Linked DNA regions of Homo sapiens: region 1 is linked to region 2. The links come from fine-mapping of genetic effects on gene expression. Tissue or cell type: whole blood. Region 2 holds a variant in brackets; the other region holds the start of a gene. All regions are shown on one strand. Distances are between the middles of the regions.

Evidence for each region. PIP is the estimated chance that this variant, and not a neighbour inherited with it, causes the effect.
Region 1: GOLGA7 starts here. The variant in region 2 is fine-mapped to the expression of GOLGA7 in whole blood (TOPMed, PIP 0.98).

Annotation. Positions count from the first base shown.
Region 1 is chr8:41,487,273-41,495,455 of GRCh38, reverse strand. It overlaps GOLGA7 (golgin A7), which reads right to left and starts at 4,874. Exons shown (of 5, transcript NM_001002296.2): 1 at 4,491-4,874. The coding sequence starts at 4,601. RefSeq lists enhancers at 4,244-4,353, 4,404-4,513, 4,804-4,933 and a silencer at 4,984-5,243.
Region 2 is chr8:41,441,147-41,449,329 of GRCh38, reverse strand. LOC124901938 (a long non-coding RNA gene) reads left to right here and starts at 6,390. Exons shown (of 2, transcript XR_007060897.1): 1 at 6,390-6,733. The variant C/A (reference allele first, on the strand shown) is at 4,420.

The DNA of each region.
Region 1 (8,183 bases), 46 kb before region 2:
AAAATTAGCCAGGCGTGGTGGTGCATGCCTATAGTCCTAGCTACTCAGGAGGCTGAGGTGGGAGGATTGCTGGAGCCTGGGAAGTGGAGGTTGCAGTGAACTGAGATCTCACCACTGCACTCCAGTCTGGGTGACAGAGTGAGACCCTGTCTCAAAAAAAGAAAGAAAGAAAAAAAACCCTCAACATACAGTATGAGCCCTACTATTCACTATTCCCAAGAATGTAATCTTTTTTTTTTTTTTTTTTTTTTTTGAGACAGAGTCTCACTCTGTCACCCTGGCTGGAGTGCAGTGGCGCAATCTTGGCTCACTGTAACCTCTGGTCCCAGGATCAAGTGATTCTCGTGTCTCAGCCTCCCGAGTAGCTGGGATTACAGGCGTGCACCACCATTCCCTACTAATTTTTGTATTTTTAGTAGAGACGAGGTTTTGCCATGTTGCCAGGCTGGTCTCAGGCTCCTAGCCTCATGTGATCCACCCCCCTGGCCTCCCAAAGAGCCACCTGCACCTGGCCTCAAGAACATAATCTTTTAAAGTGTAAAACAATTCATGACCATCCTTAAGCTATGACAACTCTTTAAGTTAGAAGCAGTTGTAGTCATTGTTTTGTCCGTTGTGTGGAAAATGTGAGGAGTCAATGGGCTAGTGGCATGCATGAATTTAATGCAAACTTTAAAGTGGTGTTGGCTCTACCCATTTTTCAAAAGGAGTTACTTTAAATTTCCAGGAATATTAGAGATTTGGACAAAGGCTAGGTGGGTCAAGACGGCCTTTAAACGCAGGGGCAGTGTTTCTTCACTGAGCTACCCCTTGTAGATGTGGTGTCAAGGCTGGTCATCTGGGAAACTGTGAGTTCTCATTCACGAAAACAGACTGAGGAGAGCTCAGCAAACAAAAATGGTAAGCTGTTACGTTCACCTAATTATGCCTACGTTAATGCCTTCAGTTTGTCCACCGATAAGTCTACAAAAGTCTAAATAATTCCAATCACATTTGATGTGCCTATGTTATAAGTCATTGAATTATTTATATTTCTTTACAATACAATTCAAAACCATGGGATTCAACCCAGAAACATCTTATTTCTTTCATATCAGAATTACTGTTTATCCCGGAAACCCTAATTATTATTATTTTTTAAGTTTAGTGACAGAGTATCGCTATGTTGCCCAGACTGGTCTTGAACTCCTGGCCCCAAGGGATACTCCTACCTCAACCCCCAGAGCAGCTGGGATTACTTGGGTGCAAACCACCATGCCCAGCCAGAAACACTTAATTCTTATGCGTTATTCCGAGATTACAATGCCCTATAGGTTAGAGGTAAATCATACGTCAGTTAAACAAACAAACAAAAAAAGGTTAATAAAAAAAGAAAAAGAAAGGATAAATGGTTAAAGAAAAGTAAATGCCAACAAGTTTTTGAAAGGTTATTTTAAAAAAGGGAAATAAAGGGTAAAAATCACAGAAGGCATCAATAAAGGCAAACGACAAACTTCACAAGAAAGGGCTCAAGAGAACAAATGTTGGCATTTGTATCTTACTACCTTTAGGCTATGAATAACAGTGGCCAGTGTTCTCCCTTAGGTTCCTGGACACTGATACAGGAGCTCTATCAAAATTTAGATATATGAGAAGTCACAGCCAAATAAAATTTGGACCCACAAACATCAAAAATCAGAATGGAAAGAGAAATCAGGCTTATTTTCCCAGAATTACTGTGAACTACACAGTAGAAAGCATGGTGAAGCATGCAGTGATCACGTATCAAGGGTGGCAGGTCAAAGGTAATTACTAACCAGATGGGGAGACATATTTTTAAAGGGAAAAAATGCCTCAATTACAGTTCACTCATTCTTCTACCCAGACCAAGGGTAACTAAGATATCTGTATTTTAAGGCTAATGAGAATAAAGTTTCCTTTAAGGAATTGTTCTGGCAACAAATCGCTTAAGCATCAAAGTATTACATTCTAAAAGGCAGCAGAGAAAATGAACTTGTTAACAGACAGAACCTATCCTACTCCCAAATTAAAGGGCACAAATGTGTGTGTATTTTTAAAAAATGCTTTAAAATAATACAAAACACTTGCATATTAGTCACTTTCTCTATTATGTTGCCAAGTGTGATGTTCTCACAAAAGGAAAATCAGCTCCAATAGCAGAGCAATCAGTAAAATTTCTAGGGTAAGTAGTAGAGAAACAGAAACCTTTCAATTTTTCATCAAAGCAAGGAAAGTTTAAACCTGTAATTTAAATTTAATCTCAACACACATACACAGACAATCAAAGCTTTTCTAGTGGTTTAAAGCATAAGCTAGTGTTTTAACCCAAACATTTAAAAAGAAAAAAGAAATTCAAAGGCACAATTGAAGAGTGCCATGTAACATTCCATATAGTACTCAGTACCACAAGCAGTTCTGGGCTATACAGAGTCAAAGAGGTAAAAGGACTCCAGAATTTAGAAACATCAATTTCCTGACAAGAATCAGTGGAGCACAGTAACTACATTGTGCTTTTGCACTTAGATTACAAAATAAAGGCTCTGCCACACACAGAGTGGAAGGCTAATGTCTGATTCTGTGTATACACATTTAGCTCAAATATATGAGGTGTAAGTGTTGCTTTAAAACCTTAAAGCAAAGGAATCTTTAATGTCCAAATAATTGTGGTAAAAAAAGAATACTTTATATTCTGATTTTGAAGTACATAAATTGTATGTCATAGTTTCCGTAAGAGGCTTAAAAATAAAACATTTGATTGATTCCATGTATATCTTTTTATTTGATTTATTTTTTGAGACAAGAGTCTTGCTCTGTCGCCCAGGCTGGAGTACAATGGCATGATCTCGGCTCACTGCAACCTCCGCCTCCCAGGTTCAAGAAATTCTTCTACTTCAGCCTCCTGAGTAGCGGGGATTACAGGTGCCCGCCACCATGCCTGACTAATTTTTGTATTTTTAGTAGAGATGGGGTTTCACCATGTTGGCCAAGCTGGTCTTGAATTCCCGACCTCAAGTGATGCACCCGCCACGGCCTCCCAGAGTGCTGGGATTACAGGCGTGAGCCACCGGGCCCAGCCAGATTCCATGTCAATCTTAACATGTAAAACACATCAATTGTGATGTTAAATTATTTTAAAACAACATTCAGTAGCTCTACCCAACTGGCCACTTGCTGAATTTCTACCTCTTCAAACCACTGTAGATAGTTCCACCTATTGTCACGCTCAGTTAACTCATAACATAGTTGACAACATACTGCAGCATTTAAATGGCATTTCAGAAACAAGTCACCTCACCATCTTTTAAAGGCATATTTGATCCATTTGCAATTCAAGAAACATATTTGGGCCATGAAGCTGCCCATGGTTATGTCAAACTGAAGGAAACTATAATGGATCATTGTTGATTTCCCAACCATGGAAATCGGGCAGTGCAACCCACCTCACTGCAAACTGACTGTAAATAACTGCTACACATTTCTCTACACAGACTCATCCACACCCACTTATCCCATGACCAGCATCTCTCAGTCCCACACCCAAGGAATGCCTAATCACCTCTCAGGCCCTCGTCCTCCCTGTCACAGAGGAGAGAGCCACAAAACCTGCTTCCAGCTAACCAGAAATTGATCCCTGAACGGGAAACACAATCTACATAACATGGGTCAAGACCAAAAGAATCTTTGGTTGAATGTACATATGTGGGCACACAAAAACACAGGCAGGCACGCACACACTCCATTACCTCTACAACAAGATACAATGATTTTTTTTTTTTTTTTAAAGTTTTGCTAGGTCTGAAGGGGAAGCAAATCCCATTCTTCCATTTTTGCCTGCAATGTTGCCCAAAGGACCTATATCCTGATGACCATTTTGATATGCAAGACAAAACAGGTGGCTCCCAGTGAATGTGACAAGTTTAAGGCCTTGTTCTGAGACATTTTCCTGTCCAGGCCTATCTAACGCCCGACGTCTTTAAGGTTCCAAGAAAGCCTGAACGCACCGCCTGGCCATGCACCTAATAAACCCTTTCAGCCAAACAGTGCGGCCAGCACAGAGGCAGCAAACACCAGTCACGAGAATGATGATGATTTATCTTGCGCGGAGAGGTAGGAGGATATAGTTTACAACCTGGTGACTGAGACGACCTGGAGCCTCAGGAATTGGCTCCTCATCGCTGCCGACAATAACCCGGGGTGGGGATTTGGGGGAGTGCAGCAGGGGAACACTGCTGGATCCAGATTCCCGGCACCGGGCAACAAAGTTCCATAAGGTCGTCAACCCCGGCGATCGGCCTATATTATTCTTCCTGCTCCAAACACCTGTCTTGCTTAGTGGCTCTCTTCTTACACGTTTGGCCAAGGCCCCTTCTGTGCCTGGACCTCCCCAGAACTGCGGGACCCTCAAAGGCCCGGTTGTCGCCCACACCCTTCCCGTCCCCGGTGAGTCTCTCTCCCTCGCCAGAGCAGGCGTGGGGAGCCAGGTTGCGTACCCGGTTCTCCAGCTCCGCAGGGAACTTGGTCTGGAACTGGCAGCGTGTGCCACTGCTGTAGTCTCGCTGAATGAACACCTTTCCGGACACCGGCGCCTGCTGCGGCCTCATGGCGAGGACAGGACACCCCGCGCTGCGGGGTCGGGGGAACACCAACCGCGAGTCAGAGCCCCGGCCTGGACCCGGGACTCTGACCCGCCAGCCCCTCGCCCCCACCCGCCGCCGAAAACAGCCCAAGGCCTCCTCTGCCCCGCTCCCCTTCACCCATGCTGTCACCGCGGGCCTTAGCTGCCGCCTGGCCCAGGCCCCGCGCCCCCCACAACCCGGTTCGGCCCGGGAAACACAAACCCGCCTCCTCTGCCCTCCAGCTGCTGTCGCACCGCCTTCGCCGTCACTTACGTCCTGCCGCAAAAAGCCTCTTCCCCGCCCCTCAGCTCGGCCTCCTACCTCAGGTCTGGGACCCACCCTCTCCTCCGGCCGTAAAGCCACCCTGCCGAAGCTGCGCGCTGTGGGGCTGGGCCGAGGAAGGGAAATGATGTGGGCGGGGCCAGGGCCGACCCCGCCTTCCGCCCGCGCGGGGATTGTTTCCGGAAGGAGAGAGGCGGGGCGAGCTGTGGGGCTGCGGCCGGGGCGAGCTGTGGGGCTGCGGCCGGCGCGAGCGCGCGGGGGTGTGAGGGGCGGAGTTTCCCGGCTGTGTCACTTCCCTAGTGATTGTGGCAGGTGGTTCCCGATCACTGATTGTGAGGGGTCATTTTCGTTCTTGATTGGACGTCGCAGCTTACGTGTGGGTTATGCCACCCAACTCATACACAAAACAAAAAACAAAACATAAAGAAAAAACAACACCCCCTCCCCAAACCCTCAAACACAAACTGCTCATTGTGTTCAGAAGTAGAAAGCAGGCTCCAAGGATGGATCCATTTGGTCCCTAGACTCTTGAGAAAGGGTCAGGAAGTGAGGACGAAGAACCTGCCTGGGCCCCAGCGTTGGGCGCCCCTGCCCCGACTCTTCTTTGGGGGCGGCGTTCCTCTCACCCCCCATTTCCACCCAGCTCCCATCCACATCCCTCAGGTGACCAAGGGGACAAGTGGTTCCGCCCTCGTTGCCCACTGGCCCTTACTTGACTCAGCATTTCTTTGCAAGGCAGCCAAAGAAACCCCACCTTACCCTTGTCTCCTGCTAATACAACCTGTTAGTACCACTGTCTTTTATATATTTAATATAGTTTAAATATCCTGCCTTTTAAATATGAAAAATTCTCTTACTGTATTTTAAAAACAGCTTTTTCGAGATATAAATGGCATACAATAAACCACACATTTAAAGCAGTGGATTTGATAACTTTGGACATATGAATACACCCATAAACCACTGTCACAATCAAGATAGTAAAGCTCCATTGCCCTGAAAAGGTTCCTCCAGCTCCTGTGTAATCTCTCCCTCCTGCCTCTCCCAGACCCCATTTCCCAGGCACTGATCCACCTTCTGTCACTCAACATTAGTTTCATTTCCTTGAATTTTATATAAATTGAATCATATAGTGTGTACCCCCTTTTTTTGCCTGGCTTCTTTCACATAGACTATTTTGAAGTCCATCTGTTGTTGTGTTATCAATAATTCATTTATTTTTGATGCTGGATAGCTATTCCATTGTATGGCCATCCCACAGTTTGTTTATCCATTCATCTGTTGATGGACATTTGGATTGCTTCCAGTTTTGGGATGTTACAAATAAAGCTGCTATGGACATTCATTTGCAAGTCTTTGCATAGGTGTGTAGACCTTAATGCTTTCATTTCTCTTGGGTACATACCTAGGAGTAGAATGGCTAGATTGTACGGTAAAAACACGTTTAACTTTTTGGCAGACTGACAAACTGTTTTCCAAAGTGGTGACACCATTTTGCATTCCCACCAGAGTTCCAGTTGCTCCACATCTTTGCCAAGACTTGGGTAGTAATATCTTCTGCAGCTATAATTTTCATTTTTCCATGACTAATTATTTTGAACATATTTTCCTGTACTTATTTGCCATCCATGTATCTTCTCTGGTGAAGTGTCTATTTAAAACTTTTGCCCATTTTTTTGTTTGTATTTTATTTTCCTGTTGTTGAGGGGTTTTTTGTTTTATTTTGTTTTGATTTACATCTTTATTGGCTGGGCTTAAGGTCAGTTTTAAATTTTTAAGGCACTTTAATTCTTGGATTTTTGTATGTTTAAAGATGTTTTCCTGAGGCCTTTATACTTGCGTGAGAACTTGGCCGGGCTGTTTTTGAGTTTTGAGTTCTTTATACATTCTGGAGAAAAATCCTTTATCAGATATGTGATTTGCATGCATTTTTCACAGTCTGTGATTTGTCTTTTTACTCTCTTAACACGTTAGGGGTTTGAGGGGATTAGGGTGTGGACCTCTTGGGGAGGGCATTTCTGCCTCCCATAGGTATAGAGTGAAACTCTTCCCTCCCCCCGTATGATTATGCAGTTGTTATTCAGTTGTTTACGTACCATTTGTTGAAAAGACTCTCATTTCTTCACTGAATTGCCTTTGTATCTCTGTTGAAAATCAGTGGGGGCCGGGCGCGGTGGCTCACGCCTGTAATCCCAGCACTTTGAGAGGCCGAGGCGGGCGGATCACGAGGTCAGGAGATCGAGATCATTCTGGCTAACACGGTGAAACCCCGTGTCTACTAAAAATACAAAAAATGAGCCGGGCGCCGTGGCGGGCGCCTATAAGTCCCAGCTACTCGAGAGGCTGAGGCAGGAGAATGGGGTGAACTCGGGAGGCGGAGCTTGCAGTGAGCGGAGATAGTGCCACTGCACTCCGGCCTGGGCTAAAGAGCGAGACTCTGTCTCAAAAAAAAAAAAAAAAAAAAAAAGAAAAAGAAAATCAGTGGTGTGTGTGTGTGTGTGTGTGTCTGTCTGTCTGTCCCTCTGTCTGCCTGTTTTGGACTTTCTATTCCGTTTCATGATCTGATCCTGTTTTGAATTAAATGTCTACTAGTGTTTGTCTCCGAAGTTGATGCTTCCTTACTAACTCAGTAAGATCTCCTAGGAGCTGGTTTTCTACATATTTGTTACTAGGGGTTGAGAACACCCTTAAACAGGTAAAACAGTCTCTACCCTCAAAATTTCAGTCTAATGGAGTGAACGAAGAAAACAATTTTCATACATTGTATATTTGGAGTATTTTCCTGCAGCCCTTGGCCACTGAGACTAGGTGGTAAAACAGACTATTATTATTATTTTTTGAGATGGATCTCACTCTGTCGCCCAGGCTGGAGTTCAGTGGCACGATCTCGGCTCACCACAACCTCCGCCTCCTGGGTTCAAGCCATTCTCCTGCCTCAGCCTCCCGAGTAGCTGGAATTACAGGTGCGTGCCACCACACCCAGCTAATTTTTGTATTTTTTTGCGTAGAGACGGGGTTTCACCGTGTTGTCTAGGCTGGTCTTGAACTCCTGACCTCGTGATCCACCCGCCTCGGCCTCCCAAAGTGCTGGGATTACAGGCGTGAGCCACTGCACCCAGCAAACAGATTATTTTTGAATGAGGAAATTTGAGGGCAAATATAACCCAAGGAAAACCCTCTTCATGTTTGGGAAGAGGATCGATCCCAGGTGAAAGAGGAATCAAAGGACGATGAGCTGTATTGTTATCGTCTTCCCTCATCCCTAAACACACTCATGTGTCTAGA
Region 2 (8,183 bases):
ACCTGACAATGTGCTGAGGAAGGCAGAAGGGAGGGGCCATGGTTTTTCCCATCGGGGGAGTCAGAGACATCTTCATGCAGGCAGTGGTCAAGAGAATACGATTCGTCTTCATTCTCCTGTCATTTAAATCAATGTCTGCTGTTTGGGCTGGGCACAATGGCTCACGCCTGTAATTCCAATAATTAGAGAGGCTGAGATAGGGGGATCGCTTGAACTCAGGAGTTCGAGACCAGCCTGGGCAGCATAGCAAGACTATGTCTCTACAGAAAATTTTAAAATTAGCCAGGTGTCATGGCATTCACCTGTGGTTTCAGTCACTGGGGAGGCTGAGGCAGGAGGATCACTTGAGCCCAGGAGTTCAAGGCTGCAGTGAGCTATGGATGGTGCCACTGCACTCCAGCCTGGGTGACAGAGTGAGACCCTATCTCTAATCTCTCTCTTTATCTATCTACCTACCTGCCTACCTACCTACCTACCTACCTATCTAAACTTCTATTTATTGAGGACCTTCTATGTGTGCGGACATTGAACCACATGTTTTATATTCATGATTTCACATAATCCATCCAACAGTATTGTCAGGCAGAGGTGATGATTCCAGTTTCTCAGAGGAGAAAAATGATATTTCTCAAGATTAAACAAGTTGCCCCGGTCACACAGCTAGTGGATGGTGGAGCTCCGAACCCTAATCCGAATGACTGCATTCTAAAGCTTGAGGAGTGGGGTCTTAGTTTAGAGGCATGGTGCTGTCCACACTGACGATTACTCTTCATTCCAGAAGAGACTCCTCCATTTATCTTTCAGACAGTTCACAAGGGGGCAGGCTGCTCTTGGAGGGTCCTTGGCTCCACTCATCGGTTTCATATACTTAGCTAAATTCTGAGATTTTTAATTGAAAAGATTCAATCAGTGAGGAGAACTGGAGCCCAAAGCAGAAAACCCAGGCTGAAGTTTGTCGTGTGCACTCTGGGAGGGTTAGGAAAAGGCTTGCTAACTGAGAGGAGCACAGATTCCAGGGCTTGCACCAGAACCAGGTGCCAGGCACCAAGACCAGGAGGTCTTGGTCCTTGCTGGCTGGGCACCCAGGGGTCAGAATGAAATTGGAGACCCAGTAAGATCAAGGCTTCCGTTTGAAGGTCCTGTGCCCCTGTACTAAGCAAGGATGACGAGCGCAGGTGTGGATGTCAGGGGCTTCTCACACATTCTGCCTCTAAATAGAGTTACACCCAGAAGTTGAATTCCTGGAACACCAAAAGCACAGTCAAGCCCAGTCTTCCCCTGTAGGCAGCAGCATTTGATACAACCAGATTCTGGGACACTGAGAAAATGTGGGCGATCCCTTGGGGTTTCTTTTAATAATAACCTTTTGTGTTTGTGCAAACTTCATTCTTAAAGCACTTTCATAATCCCTGTTGCTGAATTCTCACAAAGTTCCTGGTCCTGACTTTTCTGTGGAAGCAAACAGAAGTGACCTGATGAGGTGGAAATCACTTGAGATTGGCATCGAGTGAACGTGGGGTTTGACTCTTCTTCTGGATTTAATAGCCGTGACCTGGGTGAGTTATTCACTCTTTTAAGTTTCAGTTTCCTTCTGTGTGCAGTGAGGATTATCCTCAGGCAGGGATTAAGTGACATCTGATACATCAAGTGCCACACAGCGCCTGGCCCGATGCCAAGTGCTCGACAGGTGCCAGTCCCCTTCCTTTCTGCCTCTGTCCACTTCACTCCTGCTGTCTGCCCTTTCAGTCTGGCACCCCTGGCAGCTCTACCTGAACTGGGATGACCCACTGGCAAGGTTGTCAAGGCAGAGTTTCTGCATGTGCCTTTTGTCACAAGGCTGGATGTGGAAGGCTGAGTAAGGTTGGTGCAGAGGCTGTCGGGGGGTCCAGGTGAGAGCTCGGGTTCAGCGTCAGTCTCTGCTGCTTTGTGTTCCTCTCTGGCACAGTGGAGGGAGACCCGTGGTGTCCTGTGGTGTGGGCACATGTGGGTGGGTTATGGGGACAAGCTGGGAGCACCATCAGCTATGAATGGGGAGGTGACAGTTACTCAGTGTGTTTCTTTGTGTCTGGGTTGGGGGAGGACTGGGGCTTGACCTGCATGAGATGGGGGGAGGCTGGGACTTGACCTGCATGGGATGGGGGTGGGGGACCTAGGATTTGGCCTGCATAGGTTTGGGAGGTAAGACAGGCACCATGTCATTCCAGGGACTTGGAGGTTGTTGTGCATAGAAGTGGTTAAAGACTGCATCTCTGTATTTTTGGATTCCAAGTCAGGACACATGGTCTGATACAAGTAAGCTCACAGCAGAAATGGCACAGAATATGTGAAACCAGGAGCATGCCAGGAAACCCAAGACACGTGATCACTGAGCCTGTTCCATCTCCTGAGAGGAGTTGGTTATATTCATTTAGAAGTTTGCTGATGCTTTTTCTGGGAACTTGTTTATTTTCCTTTCCTCAAGGTAGACAGAAAGAAGTCAGGATAGGTGGGATAGGAACTGAGAGGTTTATATATTTGTTTATTTATTTTTTTACCTTTAGAGACAAGGTCTCACTCTGTCATCCAGGCTAGAGTGCAGTGGTACAATCATAGCTCAGTGTAACCTCGAACTCCTGGGCTCAAGTGATTCTCCCACCTCAGACTTGGGAGTAGCTAGGACTACAGGTGTGCACCACCATGCCTGGCTAATTTTTAAAAAAACTTTTTTGTAGATACAGGGGCTTGTTATGTTGTCCAGGCTGGTCATGAACTCTGAGAGGTATATTTTTAGAGGAACAGAACCTTTTAGGCCTTCCTCCACTTTCCCCAAAATGTAGCACCTTCCATGAACCTCGAATCCAGATTCAGGCTGCATGTTTAAAGACAACTTAAAAAACCCATGCAATCTTTCCTTATATTAATTTTATTGAATAACTTTTCTTTCAAAATCAAACACATCAAAGAGTAAAATGGCACTTGATATATAGTTCTTGTTATTTGAAGTAGTTATGCTCTATTAAGTCACAGTGGACACTGAATTAGTGAACACTGAACCACTGCTCCTGGAAGAAATACAGGGTTAAGTTCCTACGAGCTTCTGGTCGCAGCGTTTTCATCAACCAATCAGTATGTAACTTTTGTTTTATATGTGTTTCTGTTTAAAGTTGCCTTATTTAATATGTAATTGTTTAATGACCATTGAATATTAACATGGAACTCATGCGTGATCAAAGCTTATCTAATACATGTATTTTCTCCATAAGGCAAATCACAGTTTTCTTGCATTTAGTAGTGTTAGAAAGTACTTCAGCCCTACACTTGGGGGCAACAGTGAAATCACCAAAAAAATGCACAAAAATGTGAAAACGTGGCACTAGAATGACTTCAAAAAGAGCATTTATTTACAGAGTAAGAGCTGAAACAAGAAGGCAGAATGCTGTCTTATTCAACACCTGGGAATGTGGGCATTGGGCAGCTTGAATTTCTCACTGTTGTGCAGGTTTCCTTGAATGAACATGAACACCAATATATGAGCGTTGACTTGCGGAGTACAAGGAAATTTTAGTGAGTAGGAGAATTTGCAAACATATAATCTGTGAATAATGAGGATCAACTTGACTTTTCTTCCTCCATCTTCCCTCTCCCCCACACCCCCAAGTGCTTTTGGCAAAACCAGACTTCAGGGAAGACAATCACAGAATAAATTGACAGGATTCCTTTGCTTTGGAACTTGCCTGGGAACTTAGCATTTATTTATTCATTTATTTATTTATGTACTATTTTTTGAGATGGAGTCTCACTCTGTCGCCCAGGCTGGAGTGCAGTGGTGCAATCTTGGCTCACTGCAGCCTCCACCTCATGGGTTCTAGCAATTCTGCCTCAGCCACCCAGGTAGCTGGGATTACAGGCATGTGCCACCATGCCTGGCTAATTTTTGTATTTGTAGTAGAGACGGAGTTTCACATGTTGGCCAGGCTGGTCTTGAACTCCTGACCTCAAGTGATCCTCCTGTCTCAGCCTCCCAAAGTGCTGGGATTACAGGCATGAGCCACTGCCCCTGACACTTAGCATTTATTTTAACTTTAATTTTAGGTTGATAACTAATTGAAGCCATTCTGTCTCCTCAGGTCTAGGTAAGCAATGGTACTGGTCTAGGTAAGCAATGGTACTGGTCTAGGTAAGCAATGGTACTGTCCAGCTATCGCCTTGCAAGGTATACAAAGACCTTCCAGATCTGACATGTTGTTCTCTTCATTGCCCTATCTTCCTCCATGCCCTTCCCAGTCTAGCTCCAGCCATACTGAACTCCGTGTAGTTTCCTCCTATGCATATGTGTGTTTGCATATTCTGATCTCTATGCCCAAGCTCTTTCCTGCCTGCGCTGGCTTTTCAAGTATTGCCTCCCTGTGAAGCTTTGACAGTGAGATCCCCCACTCTGTT[C/A]TTGACGTCCTAAGCATGCAAACCTATTTACCTTGTTTTATTTTATTTATTTTTTGAGACAGGGTCTCATTCTGTTACCCATGCTGGAATGCAGTGGTGTGATCTTGGCTCACTGCAGCCTTGACCTCCCCAGGCTCAAGCAGTCCTCCCACCTCAGCCTCCTGAGTAGCTGGGATTACAGGTGTGCCACTGCACCCAGCTAATTTTTTTTTGTAGTGATGGGATTTCACCATGTTGCCCAGGCTGGTCTTGAACTCCTGGGTTCAAGTGATCCACCTGCCTTGGCCTCCCAAAGTGCTAGGATTACAGGCATGAGCCATAGTGCCTGGCCTCCTACCAGGGCGTTGTCTGTTTACCTGTTTGTTTTTCCTTTAAGAATGTAAGCCCTTTGAGGGAAAGGACCCTCTCTCACCTTTGTCTACCAGTGCTTGGCAAGCAGCTTCATGAAAGGAGGGATAGAGGGGTGAAGGAGGAAGAGAGTGTTCCAAGATGTTGACACTTCTGCTCACGGTGGTTGAAAACACAGGTATAAGCTAATTAGGATTCATCAAAGGAAGAAAGCAAGGCATCTTATTTTTCTCTTTATTTATGTAACTGTGCACGAGCTTAAAAAGTTAGGTGTAATTTTCACAAAGGTTTAAAATAATTAGGAGTAATTTATTGGAAATCCTTGTGTTCAGCCAAATATGGTGTAAATTACAGACCTTTCATTTCACATTTCTATGAAATATATTTGACTGATAGTGGAGAGCAATAAAGTGGAGTCTTGATCTTGTGCCCCAGAAGTAATCACTATGTACCCATTGCAAGTCATTTCACCTTTTGGGACCTCAGTTTCTGCAGCTGAAAAATAAAAACATTAAGAGATTACACTGGAGTGAGAGTGTTCTGCTGTTTCTATCTGCCCAGCATCCTTTCTGTCTAGGATTAGGCATGGCCAGAAGAATCAGACCTGATAAATCTTTGTATTTCCTCTATCTGGCCAGAAGAATTGGTTCAGGAATGGACATATGATTAAAGTCTGAAATTCTGGAACTTTTGGCCAGGTGTGGTGGCTCACGCCTGTAATCCCAGCACTTTGGGAGGCCAAGGCAGGTGGATCACCTGAGGTCAGGGGTTTGAGACCAGCATGACCAACATGGTGAAACCCCATCTCTACTAAAAATACAAAAATTAGCCAGGTGTGGTGGCGCACACCTGTATTCCCAGCTACTTGGGAGACTGAGGCAGGAGAATCACTTGAACCCAGGAGATGGAGGTTGCAGTGAGCAGAGATCACGCCACTGCACTCCAGCCTGGGCAACAGAGTGAGACTCCATCTCAAAAACAAAAACAAACAAACAAAAAAACCCAGAAAACTTTTGTTGGAACTATTAGTTTAACATGGCAGATGAGATGCTATTAGTCTCCCTCCAAAATCCATTTTCTCCATCTCCCTTAGTAACAGAACTCTTGACTTTTAGCTGGGTTTATATCTTCCAGGAACAAAGATTACACTTCTAGCCTCCCTTACAACTAGGTGTGGGCATATGATTACATTTGACCAAGGATTTTTTTTTTCTTTTTAAGAGACGGGGGTTTTCCTTTAAGAAGTGGATAAAAGACATGAACAGACACTTCTCAAAGGAAGACATTCATGCAGCCAAAAAACATATGAAAAAAAGCTCAACATCACTGATCATTAGAGAAATGCAAATCAAAACCACAGTGAGATACCATCTCATGCCAGTCAGAATGGCAACTATTAAAAAGTCTAGAAACAACAGATGCTGGTGAAGTTGCAGAGAAATAGGAACACTTTTACACTGATGGTGGGAATGTAAATTAATTAATTTAACCATTAATTAACCATTGTGGAAAACACTGTGACAATTCCTCAAAGATCTAGAAACAGAAATACTATTTGACCAAACAATCCCATTACTGGGTATATACCCAGAGGAATATAAATCATTCTATCATAAAGATACATGCATGCGTATGTTCATTGTAGCACTATTCTCCTTCATTCTATCATAAAGATACATGCATGCGTATGTATGTTTGTGGAGGAACTACACAGTCCTGGACTGCTTACTTTGGGATTTTGTTTATGTAAGACAGAATGAACTTCTAGCTTGTTTAAACTGTTGTCACTTTGAGTTTTCTTTTACTTGGCAGCTTAACCTAATCCTGATTGATAGAGAGCTATCGGGAAGGACAACCACTGGGCTTCTGAGATGACCGGCTGGAAGCCTGAACCCGCCGGATGGTCATCTTGCCACCGCATGGGAAGGAAGGTTGCCTGAATAAAGCTGACATAGAAGGAGGCAAGGTAGGAAACAGAGACTCCCTCAGCCCCACTGACATCAAAGAAGCCACTGTATCTGGCTGTGCTTGAAGCTCACAGCTTTTAACTTTTCAGTTTATGTGTGACACTACTTTTGCCTAAATGAATTTTGTGTTAATCAGGGTCTTTGTCTTTCACAACTGAGAGTCCTATCCGATACAAAGCAGCAGAACGACTTCTCCCAACAACTTCTTACTCAGAAACCCAATCATATTCAGAAGGGGCACAAAGAGCTTCTTCAGCTCAGGCAGGGTAGGAGGATGGAGCCTGAGATCTCTCAGGAATTGCTTGTTCTCCTCACAGCACAGTCTGGAAAACACAAAACTAGACGAGTCTATGATCCTGTGGAAGAACAAGCTAATTCTGAGAGTTCATTTCAAAGCAAATGCCTGCTCCTTTTCTAGAATCACTCAAAGCCAGTTATTGCATCATTGCTACTTTTTAACATCTTTTTTTCTCCTTTGTTAGTAATGTTAATAAGGCACGTAGACACCTTAGTTGAAACAAGCCCAGCCCTCCCTTGGCTATTTCAACACATTCAGTATCCTCATCTTGAATGCTCATCTTAATCAAGATTCAGCAATCAGGTCTCTTAGTTTTAGATAATTCATTTATATTTTGACTTGTGAGGCTTGGGCTTAGGGCTAGCTAGATTCATAGGGACATTAGCTCTCCTCTAGCTAATTCTGCCATTGTTTCAATGTCTGGCATTTGGGATTTGTTCAGTTGGTTGCTCCTTGGAACCAAGTTTCATTTGCAAGGGAGGGGATCAGATTCCAAAGCTGGATCCCATTTCCATTGCTTCAGGAGAGACTCAGAATATGTCCCCAAGACCAGTTGCCTCTTCTAAGGGATCTAAGCCTCTCTGTGGAGGAAGGAGGGCATCACCTGCCTCAGCTTCCACTCTGCATGCAGCCTCTTTGGTGCTGGCCCATTTACTAACCACACTGGACTGCTCTGTCTTGGGAAAGGAAATGTATTCTCTGCCCTGATCAACAAAGGGCACCTTGGATCACCACTGATCTGCTGGAATGTTGGATGCCCTCTGAGGGTGAAATGAGCATTTTCCTCTTGATCTGAGCATTGTTGACATTTTCATTGGCAGCCCAGCCTTGAAAAGCCACATCTTGGCAAGAGAAGAGCTGAAATCTCACTCAAGCATTTGCTCTAGGCGATCACTCTGGGATCCAGGGCTGAGGCTTTCATCAGGGTCATGGAAGCACTGGGATCAAGGAACACCATTCTTTCCAGCGTCGGGGAAGACACAGCAATCATAAGCTGTTTCTTCCTCTTCCCAGGGCTTGTGTATACCATTGGGGCAGACCCAGGGAACGTTTAGAACTAGGCTCTGGTGTCAGATCAGAGGCTTGGTAGAATTTCCAGCTCCTTGTGTGAGAAAAGTGGCAGCAACATAACCATCTTAAAAGCTGCTTTG